2 separate regions of the Homo sapiens genome follow, and region 2 is linked to region 1. Evidence: fine-mapped expression QTL. A gene starts in region 1. The other region holds a variant in brackets. All regions are shown on one strand. Distances are from middle to middle.

Region 1 (5,367 bases):
CTTTTTAAGGATAAGTTGAGTTAGTGACCAGAGCCCTGCCTGCGAGTCCTAGAGTCTAAGGCAGCAGCTACAATTATTGGACACCAAATGTATATGATCACGCTGACTGTATAACCTCATGCTGTCTGTGTACACCCAGCACTAAATGTATATTCCTGCTGAGGATACCTCCACACCACCTGTATAATGCCATGTTAACCAAATAATTGGCTGCACTATAAATATCTATAAATATTCAAGTAGAGGCAGGTTGTGGCGTGGTGACTCGTGCCTGCAATCCCAGCACTTTGGGAGGTTGAGGTGGGAGGATTGCTTAAGGCCAGGAGTTTGAGCCCAGCCTGGGTAACACAGTGAGATCCTGTCTCTATTTTTATTGTATTGTATTTTTTTTTTTTTTTGAGGCGGAGTCTCGCTCTGTCGCCCAGGCTGGAGTACAGTGGCATAATCTCGGCTCACTGCAACCTCTACCTCCCAGGTTCAAACGATTCTCCTACTTCAGCCTCCCCAGTAGCTGGGATTACAGGTGCCCACCACCACACCTGGCTAATTTTTGTATTTTTAGTACAGACAGGGTTTTGCCTTGTTGGCCAGGCTGGTCTTGAACTCCTGACCTCAGTGATCTGCCCGCCTCGGCCTCCCACAGTGCTGGGATTACAGGCATGAACCACCACACCCGGCTAATTTTTGATTTATTGATTGATTGATTTTTTGAGACACTCGCTCTGTCACCCAGGCTGGAGTGCAGTGGCACGATCTCGGCTCATTGCAACCTCCGCCTCTCGGGTTGAAGTGATTCTCCTGCCTCAGCCTCCCAAGTAGCTGGGACTACAGGTGCACACCACAACATCCAGCTAATTTTTGTATTTTTAGTACAGACGGGGTTTCACCAAGTTGGCCAGGATGGTCTCGATCTCTTGACCTCATGATCCGCCCACCTCGGCCTCCCAAAGTGCTGGGATTATAGGTGTTAGCCACCACACCCAGCCTATTTTCTTTTTTCTTTTTCTTTTTGGAGACAGAGTCTCACTCTGTCCCCCAGGTTGGAGTGCAGTGAGGCAATCTTGGCTCACTGCAACCTCCACCTCCTGGGTTTAAGCGATTCTCCTGCCTCAGCTTCCCAAGTAGCTGGGATTACAGGCATGTGCCACCACACTGGCTAATGTTTGTATTTTTAGTAGAGAAGGGGTTTCACCATGTTGGCCAGGCTGGCTTAGAAATCCTGATCGACCTGCCTCAGCCTCCCAGAGTGCTGGGATTACAGGCATGAGCCACTGCACCTGGCCTATGCCTGCTCTTTGAGGTCAGTTTTGGTTTCATACTTTAGCCTCATTTTGCAGTTGAGGAAACTGAGGCTTAAGGAAGATAAGCCCTTTGTTAAGTATCCTCTAGTTCAGAGGGTGCAGAAGGAGCATTTGAATTCAGGGCGACCCAGGAGGATGTGGGCTCCACAAGGGTGGAGATTGGGTCTCTCTGGTTCCTCACTGTATGCGGTGCCCCGCCCAAGGCCTGCACCCACTAAGGGCTGAATAAATACTTGTTCTAAGACCAGGCCCAGTAGTGCACGCAGGTAATCCCAGCACTTTGGGGGGCCACGGTGGGAGGAGCCCACGAGTCCAGGAGTTAAAGATGAGCCTGGGCAACATAGCAACATCCCATCTCTACAAAAAAAATTAAAAATTAGCCGAGTGCAGTAGAGCACCTGTAGTCCCAGCTACTCAGGAGGCTTAGTCAGGAGGATGGCTTGAGGCAGGGAGGTCGAGACTGCGATGAGCTGTGATTGCACCACTGCACTCCAGCCTGGGCAACAGAGGGAGATCCTGTCTCAAAAAAAAAAAGCAGCAGACAGAAAGAAAACTAATTTCCTGCACAGCTTGGAGAAGTTTTCAGCACCAACATTCCACAGTTGGTTGTCTGGGTTTGGGCAGTAGGCCGTTTTCCCTCCCAGTGCCTCAGTTTCCACACCTGCAAAACGAAGCCACGGAAACGCCCTTTCAGGGTGGCCAGGGGTTCTAGGCGGCATCGCCCGGTGGCAGGGTGTTCCCAGGGTGAAGCCGCAGGGTTCCCGGGTGGGGGCGGGGAAGGCTAAATGCGGCCGGCCGGTGAGTGGCGGGAGCAGCTGCAGCCCCGCCCGCGCCCTCCCGGGTCCCTTAGTCTGGGCAGCTGCCCAGCTCGGGCCGGTCTGACCGGTTTGGGCCGCCCCGCCTGGCGCTGTGCTGGGAGGAGCCGCCGCCAGTCGCGCGGTCAGTGCCTCCCTCCAGACTCGGGAGGGTCGAGGGGGCGCGGGAGAGAGCGCGGGCGGCCGCCGGGGCTGGTCGCCTGCAGGGATGGGGGACGAGCGGCCCCACTACTACGGGAAACACGGTAGGCAGCGACCCCCGCCCGTAGCCCCGGGCCGACCCCTCGGTCCCTCGGAGGGGGCCTTGAGAGAACATGGGGCGCAGGGAAGGGGGCTGGAGGGGGAGCGCAATTGCAAATCTGCGCCTGGAGCCTCCCCACCATCAGCCAGGCCCCTTCACCCCACTTATCCCCCGCAGCCTCGCAGACGACCCTCCTTACTCTCCCCTACCCGAAGGACCTGCCCCTGTACCCCTCTGCCTGGCACTGCTGCCGGCGCCTCCTTCCCCCTATCCCACCTCAGATCTTCCCCATCTCCACCTGGTTCCGTGGTGGTCACCATTTCAGCCCTCTTCCCAGTGGGTGGCCGCCAGTTAATAAGTTTGTTCACAGTTAGTGATCCCTCCTTCCTCCCCTGTCCTGGCCTGCCAGAACTGGGGGCTTGGGTGTGGTCACCTGGAGGTGGGTGAGGCAGAAAATTCCACAGGTCTCTGAATTTTATTCTTGCCAAGGCAAAGACACCCCTAGGGGCTTTTGGGAGGGGGCTCTCCCAGCCCTGTCTTGGTTCAGGTCTCCAATCCCATCCATCTTAATCTTCTTGACTTTCAGGAACGCCACAGAAGTATGATCCCACTTTCAAAGGACCCATTTACAATAGGTAAGAGCTCTGGGTTTTGGGGGGTTCTCCCCGCTAATACTACCCCAATCCCTGTCTCTTCACACCCCCTCCCATCTGTTCTCCAACAAACTGGTGACAAATATTTGAAACTTTTTTTTTTTTTTGAGATGGAGTCTTGCTCTGTCACCAGGCTGGAGTGCCGTGGCGCGATCTCAATCTCGGCTCACTGCAACCTTCGCCTCCCGGGTTCGAGCAATTCTCCCACCTCAGTCTCCCAAGTAGCTGGGATTACAGGCTTGCACCACCACACCTGGCTAATTTTTTTTTTTTTTTGTACTTTTAGCAGAGATGTTTCGCTGTGTTGCCCATGCTGGTCTCGACCTCGTGAGCTCAAAGCGATCCACCTGCCTTGGCCTCCCAAAGTGCTGGGATTACAGGTGTGAGTTACCACACCTGGCCTGGACTTAATTTTTACCATGTTTATATTTATTTATTTATTTATTTATTTTTGAGATGGAGTCTCACTCTGTCACCCAGGCTGGAGTGGTGCAATCTCAGCTCACTGCAACCTTCCCCTCCTGGTTCAAGCACGTCTTCTGTCTCAGCCTCTCCAGTAGCTGTGACTACTCAGAGGCTACTCAGAAGGCTGAGGCAGGAGAATTGCTTGAATCTGGGAGGTGGAGGTTGCAGTAAGCTGAGATTGCGCCACTGCACTCCAGCCTGGAGGACAAGAGCGAGACTCTGTCTCAAAAAAAAATAACAAAAAAATAAAATACAGCCAGGCACGGTGGCTCACACCTATAATCCCAGCACTTTGGGAGGCCAAGGCAGGTGGATCACTTGAGGTTAGGAGTTCGAGACCAGCCTGGCTAACATGGTGAAACCCTGTCTCTACTAAAAATACAAGAATTAGCTGGGCATGGTGGCGGGCACCTATAATCCCAGCTACTTGGGAGACTGAGGCAGGAGAATCGCTTGAACCTGGGAGGTAGAGGTTGCAGTAAGCTGAGATCGTTCCACTGCACTCCAGCCTGGGCGACAGAGTGAGATTCCCTCTCAAAAAAAAAAAAAAAGTCTAGCTTGGGCAACATAGCGAGACCTTGTCTCTACAGAATGTATATAAATTAAAAAAAAAATGTGTGGTGGTGTGCACCTGTAGTCTCAACTACTTGGGAAGCTGAGGCAGGAGGATCACTTGAGCCCAGGAGTTCGAGGCTGTAGTGAGCTATGATCATGCCACTGTACTCCAGCCTGGATGACGGAGTGAGACTCTGTTGCACAAAATTAAAAAATGAAATGAAATAAAAATTAAAATGCATGTGCCCTTTGGTACGGCATTCAAACGACTCAGGAAAATTTGTCCAAATAACACATGGATGAGGGTGTTTGCAGAGGGCAGATGGGCCCATGGTGCACACAGCACCAAGCCTCCTCCAAACACTGCCCCTCTGCTCCCCAGGGGCTGCACGGATATCATATGCTGTGTGTTCCTGCTCCTGGCCATTGTGGGCTACGTGGCTGTAGGCATCATAGGTGAGTAGAGAATGAGCAGGACTTGGAGTTGCAGGGTAGGCGGAGGCAGCCATGGCCTCTGGAGTGGGAACAGGGCTGGATCTGAGGAGTGGCAGTGTCTCAGTATCCCTGGATCTTTCCACAGCCTGGACTCATGGAGACCCTCGAAAGGTGATCTACCCCACTGACAGCCGGGGCGAGTTCTGCGGGCAGAAGGGCACAAAAAACGAGTGAGTTGACTCCTTGCGGCCTGGTGGGGCTGGGGAAGAGGGGGCAGAAGATTCTAGGCATTCCCCATCTCTCTAAGTCCAGTTAACAAGTGCTTATAGGCTGGGCGCGGTGACTCACGCCCGAAATTCCAACACTTTGGGAGGCCGAGGCAGGAATATTGCTTTAGGCTAGGAGTTCGAGACCAGCCTGGCCAACATGGCAAAACCCCGTCTCCACTAAAAATACACAAATTAGCCAGGCATGGTGGCACATGCCTGTAATCCCAGCTACTCAGGAGGCTGAGGCAGGAGAATCACTTGAACCACAGGAGGCAGAAGTTGCAATGAGCCGAGATCGTGCCACTGCACTTTAGCCTGGGGCACAGAGTGAGACTCTGTCTCAAAACAAACAAGCAAAAATTAAGTGGACGTGGTGGGGCACACCTCTAGTCCCAGCTACCCAGCAGGCTGAGGTGGGAGGATAGCTTGAGCTGGGAGGCCAAGGCTGCAGTAAGGTATGATTGTACCATTGCACTCCAGCCTGGACGACAGAGCGAGACCTGGTCTCAACAAAACAACAAGAAAAGAAAACAAGTACTGATAAACGTCCCACTACCCTCAGCCACTAGTCTAGTCCTTGGGGACACACAGCTCTAAATGAGATAGTAAGCATCCTGTTCTCTGGCAGCACAC
Region 2 (5,367 bases), 69 kb before region 1:
AATAAACTGTGTGCATCTATCACCCCTGCCTTCTAGACTGGGCGAAAGCAATCCTAATAACAGCTAAGACCTATGGGGCATTTACCATATCTTAATCACTTTACGAGAATTAACTCATTTCATCCTCTGCAACTTGATAAGGCAGAACCGTCTCTATCTCCATCTTATGAGAAAGAGGCCCAGAGAGGGGTAGCGACTTGCCCAAGGTCACACAACGTTGGTGCCCATATAGGATTCGAACCCAGGTCTCAGAGCGGGGGGCGCTGCATTCCCAAAGTCATGCAACAAGAGGTTGACGGAGCCAAGACTCAAGCCTGGGCCTGACAGGCTCCCCACCCACGCTTCCCCAGCCAGCACTGCTTACTCTTCTCGGCAGAGTGACTTGAAGACCTGCCGCTTTTTCCATGAGTTCTGGGCCTTCTGGCTGTACGCCCGCTTGTCCCGCAGCTCCTCCTGCTCTGACCTGCAGACAGATGCCCCTGTGTTGGGTGCTCTGGGAAGTGCCCGAGGCTGCCCGCCCTGCCCCCTGCGCATGTGGCCCCGCCGCGCCCCGCCCCATCACCTGTACATGCAGGTCTTCTTTAGGGAGCACCACCGGTTCAGCTCCTTATCGTCAGCAGCGAGGATCTGCGTGGGAAGGGAGAGTGGGGACCTGCTGTGATATTGCCCAGGCGGGGCCTTCCCTGAGCCTAAGTCATGTCATTAGTCAAAACGGTAATGCCGCTACCACCCAGCAGGGTTGCCATGATGGCCAGAGACAGCTGATCTCTACAGAGGCCAATGATTTTTGTAGAGGTCAGCAGATGGGGTAACTGAGGCTCAGAGAACGGATCCTTGCCCTAGGCCAGATGGCTGGGAAGTTGGCTGAATTGATTCCAGTTTGAGCCTCAGGGCCCTTGAGCTGTCACCCATACCCGGCCATCCCCAAAGCCTCAGAACGGGCAGGGGTCGCTGCCAACCACCAGGCTTCCTAATTACATATGAAACTGTCATTCCCAGCCTCTAGGCCTGTTTCCAAACCTACTGGAAGGCCATCAGAAAGAGGAAGTGATTGAATGCCGATGGTATAAGCTTAGTACACATCGGCTATTTTTACTGACCATGAAAATGGTCGTGCACCTTCAGCCGTCATCAGTCAGGCATAGTAGGTACCCACAGCCTGCCAGGTGCCACACACTTTGGTCTCATTTCTGTTCCTTCCATAGTCACCAAAGTTGGGGTGCTATCAATTATTGTCTCACTTTACAGATGGGGAGTTGAGGCACAGATAGGGGAATCATTTGTCCAAAGACTCAGCTGGTGAGCAGCCAAGCCAGGGCTTGAACCCACCTAGGCCCCCTGGTTCCAGAGGACACCAAGTCTTTTGTTGAGACAGGGTCTCACTATGTCACCCAGGCTGGAGTGCAGTGGCAGGCTCACAGCTCACAGCAGCCTCAACCTCCTGGACTCAAGCAACCCTCCTACCTCAGCCTCCCAAGTAGCTAGGACTAGATCTCCCTATGTTGCTCAGGTTAGTCTCAGAACTACTGGGCTCAAGTGATCCTCCTGCTTCAGCCTCCCAGAGTACTGGGATTACAGGTGTGAGCCAGTGTGACCAGCCCTGCTACCAAGTCTTACCAGCCAGACTGCTGCTAATACATACTGACAGGAATAAAATAATATTGGCTGGGCCTGGTGGCTCACACCTGTAATCCCAGCACTTTGGGAGGCTGAGGCAGGCAGATCACATGAGGCCAGGAATTTGGGATCAGCCTGGCCAATATGGTAAAACTTATCTCTACTAAAAATACAAAAATTAATTGGGCATGATGGCACATGCCTGTAGTTCCAGCTACTTGGGAGGCTAAGGCAGGAGAATCATTTGAACCTGGGAGGCGGAGTTTGCAGTGAGCTGAGTTTGCACCACCGCATGCCGGCCTGGGTGACAGAGCAAGACACTGTCCCAATCAACCAATCAAAAAATAAACAAAAATAAAAAGTAATATTGGCTGGGTGTGGTGGCTCACACGCAGAATCCCAGCACTTTGGGAGGCCAAAGCAGGAAGCTTGTTTAGGCCCAGGGAGTTCGAGACCAGCCTGCACAACACAGTAAAACATCATCTGTACAAAAAATATTTTTAATTAAAAAAAATTAATTGGGCATGGTGGCACATGCCTGTAGTCCCAGCTACTTGGGAGGCTGAGGTAGGAGGATCAATTGAGCCCAGGAGGTTGGCACCACTGCACTCCAGCCTGGGTGACAGAGCGAGACTATGTCTCAAAAAAAAGAAGTAATATTTACGGGGCGTGCCATAGGTGAGGCACTGTTTTAAGCCCCCACCTTGTAGAAGGTAGTAATATTACCTTTGAGGTGAGGTAATGTTATTAGCACTGTCATTAGGACTATTAGCATTTCTTTTTTTTTTTTTTTGGCGCTCTGTCACCTAGGCTGGAGTGCAGTGGTGCAATCTCGGCTCATTGCAACCTCTGCCTCCTGGGTTCAAGCGATTCTCCTGCCTCAGCCTCCCAAGTAGCTGGGACTACAGGCGCCTGCCACCATGCCTGGCTAATTTTTTTGTATTTTTAGTAGAGACGGAGTTTCACCACGTTGGCCAGGCTGGTCTCGAACTCCTGACCTCAGGTGATCCACTTGCCTCGGTCTCCCAAAGTGCTGCGATTACAGGCATGAGCCACTGCGCCCAACCGAATATTATCATTTTCAAGATGAAGAAACAGCCTGCCATGTTGTGGCATTTCTGAGCAACAGAGATTGGGACTCAGGGCCAGCTTTCTACCCCTTCGGCATACCTGGTGCCCCCTGCAGTGTCCCTGCCTGCCCGGGGCCCCTACCTCCTCAGTGCTGAGGCCAAAGTCACAGGGCACCACTGTGCGGTACTTGAAGCGACAGGGCAGGTCGTCGATGATGTCCTCGTAGTCCAGCCGGTAATACTCATCCAGGTACTCCTCGAACGTCTTGTCCCCTGCTCGAGACAGAGCCAGGCTGCTGGGCTATGCCAGGCCCCGCGGTGCCCCCTGCCTACCCACGGCCTGCCCACCTGGGCCTCACCGGGTTC[A/G]AACACGGGCTTCTCCTGCCCCACGGCCGCGGCGAAGGGCGACTTGCGCTTCTTCTTGCCCGTCAAGGGGGCCTCGCGCTTTTTCTTCCTCGGCTGGCTGGGGTCGTAGTCGGCGTCCATCTGCCAGGACGCACAGGTCAGATCCCACCAGCCCCCCGTCAGGGCCCCTGGGACTCCCTCAACCCGTGATACCTACGTTGAAGTTGGGGTCCTCACAGTGCAGCTCCTGCTGGCTCCAGTCTCCCTCCTGCTCAGGCCCGTCCCACGTGTCCCAGTTCCAGTCGTCTGGATGCAGGGAGAACAGACAGGTGGGGCCAGGGTGGGACCTTGGGCTTCAGTCCCAGTCCCCAGTCCCCAATCCCCAGCCCAGTGCCCCAGCTGATCTCACCTTCAAGCCCTTCTTCTTCCTCAAATTGTGGCTTCTCCTCCTCCACGGCCCCGTAGTACTCGTCCCCAAAGCACTTCTGCAGGGTCAGGGCTGGCGGTTACCAGAGCCCACTCGAGACATAGGAGCTGAGCCCCCTACGATGCCGCCAATGACCCCCTCCTTGGCAACTTTACTCCTACAGCTAGGGCTCCCTACAGCCCTCCCAGCACCTAGCTCCTGAGGTGGGAGGCCCTGCATGTCCAGGATCCTCCGCCAACTCCCCTGCTGTCTACCCTGTGATGTACTGGCCGCCATTCAGTTCCACATATCCACAGTTCTTCGCCGTCCTACCCACCTTCGCCCCTGTGGTGCCCACCACCTGGTGCACTACTCAGGCCCCAGGTCTTTTTTTTTTTTGAAACAGAATTTCGCTCTTGTTGCCCAAGCAGGAGTGCAATGGCACTATCTCGGCTCACTGCAACCCTTGCCTCCCGGTTTCAAGCGATTCTCCTGCCTCAGCCTCCGGAATAGCTGGGATTACAGGCATGTGCCACCACGCCCGGCTAAGATCTTTTTTTTTTGAGACAGCGTCTCACCCAGTAGCCCATGCTGGAGTACAATGGCGAGATCTTGGCTCACTACAACCTCCACCTCCCGGGTTCAAGCGATTCCCTGCCTCAGCCTCCCGAGTAGCTAGGATTAGAGGTGCACGCCACTACACCCTGGCTAATTTTTTGTATCTTTAGTAGAGATGGGGATTCTCCATGTTGGCCAGGATGGTCTCAATCTCCTGACCTCGTGATCCGCCTGCCTCGGCCTCCCAAAGTGCTGGGATTACAGGTGTGAGCCACTGCACCCGGCCAGGTCTTTTTTTTTTTTTAAAACAGAGGCTCCCTCTGTCGCCCAGGCTGGAATGCAGTGGCATGATCTCGGCTTACTGCAACCTCTGCCTCCCGGGTTCAAGCAATTCTCCTGCCTCAGCCTCTCAAGTAGCTGAGATTACAAGCATACACCACCACACCTGGCTAATTTTTGTATTTTTAGTAGAGATGAGGTTTTACCATGTTGGCCAGGCTGATCTCGAACTCCTGACCTCAGGTGATCTGCCTGCCTTAGCCTCCCAAAGTGCTGGGATTACAGGCGTGAGCCACCGTGGCCAGTGAGAGCCATGTTTGTGTGAACTCAGCGTCATGTTGGGCCGGGATGAGGGCCGCACCTGCATGAGCTGGTCGTGCTGGGCAGGGTCGAAGTCGTCTTCAAGGTCCCCCTCCTCGAGGCCCAGCATCTCGTTGCCTGTTACTTTCCGCAGCTTCTCCAGCTTGGCCAGAATCTCCTTCCTCTTCAGGTTCTTCAGCTGCTTGAGCTCTTCCTGCTTCTTTGCTTTCTCCTGCAGGCCCAGGCAGAGAGGGGGAGGGCATGGGCTTTCCTCCAGGGCTGGGGGGTCCTCCCCAGCTCACCCCCCACACTCACCCTCTTCTTTCGCTCCCGAGTCTCTTCCCTCTTCTCCTTTCTGCGCTCATCCTTACGGCGCACGGAGGACGCGATGCTGCGTGGGTAGGTCTTGACCTAGGCGCAATCAGAAAAGCCCACAAGGGCCGCAGAGATGATGTGGGGTTCCCTGGGCCTGAACCCTGGGGGCTGAGTCCTCCCCAGCCCCAGCCACACACCGATGCTGAGTCCGGCTCCTCGAAACGGAAATTGTACTTCTGTTCAAAGTCCTCCTGTTTCTTCAGAAACAGCTCCCCTTCGTCTGAGGAGTCGTCCACAGCCAGCTGGACTGGGGGACCGTGGACCCTGAGGGGCAAGATGTGGTGATGCCAGGGGGCCAGCCAAGTGAGGTCGAGCCCCCCTTTCCTGCACGCCTGGGTACGAAGCGTATGAACTCATTTAATCCTCACAAGAACCCTACAAGGTGCACGCTGCTATTGTCCTCATTTTACAGATGGG

Evidence for each region. PIP is the estimated chance that this variant, and not a neighbour inherited with it, causes the effect.
Region 2: its variant is the best candidate, but not a certain one, in a credible set for the expression of SLC44A2 in whole blood (INTERVAL, PIP 0.60).

The regions. Positions count from the first base shown.
Region 1 is chr19:10,623,310-10,628,676 of GRCh38, forward strand. SLC44A2 (solute carrier family 44 member 2 (CTL2 blood group)) reads left to right here and starts at 2,244. Exons shown (of 22, transcript NM_020428.4): 1 at 2,244-2,361; 2 at 2,944-2,992; 3 at 4,413-4,486; 4 at 4,611-4,695. The coding sequence starts at 2,325. RefSeq lists an enhancer at 702-1,283.
Region 2 is chr19:10,554,723-10,560,089 of GRCh38, forward strand. KRI1 (KRI1 homolog) reads right to left here. Exons shown (of 19, transcript NM_023008.5): 10 at 5,088-5,214; 11 at 4,891-4,986; 12 at 4,637-4,807; 13 at 3,442-3,517; 14 at 3,250-3,338; 15 at 3,047-3,173; 16 at 2,830-2,960; 17 at 563-627; 18 at 365-463. Among named protein-coding and RNA genes, the nearest start is that of MIR1238, 5.3 kb to the left of the region's middle. The variant A/G (reference allele first, on the strand shown) is at 3,054.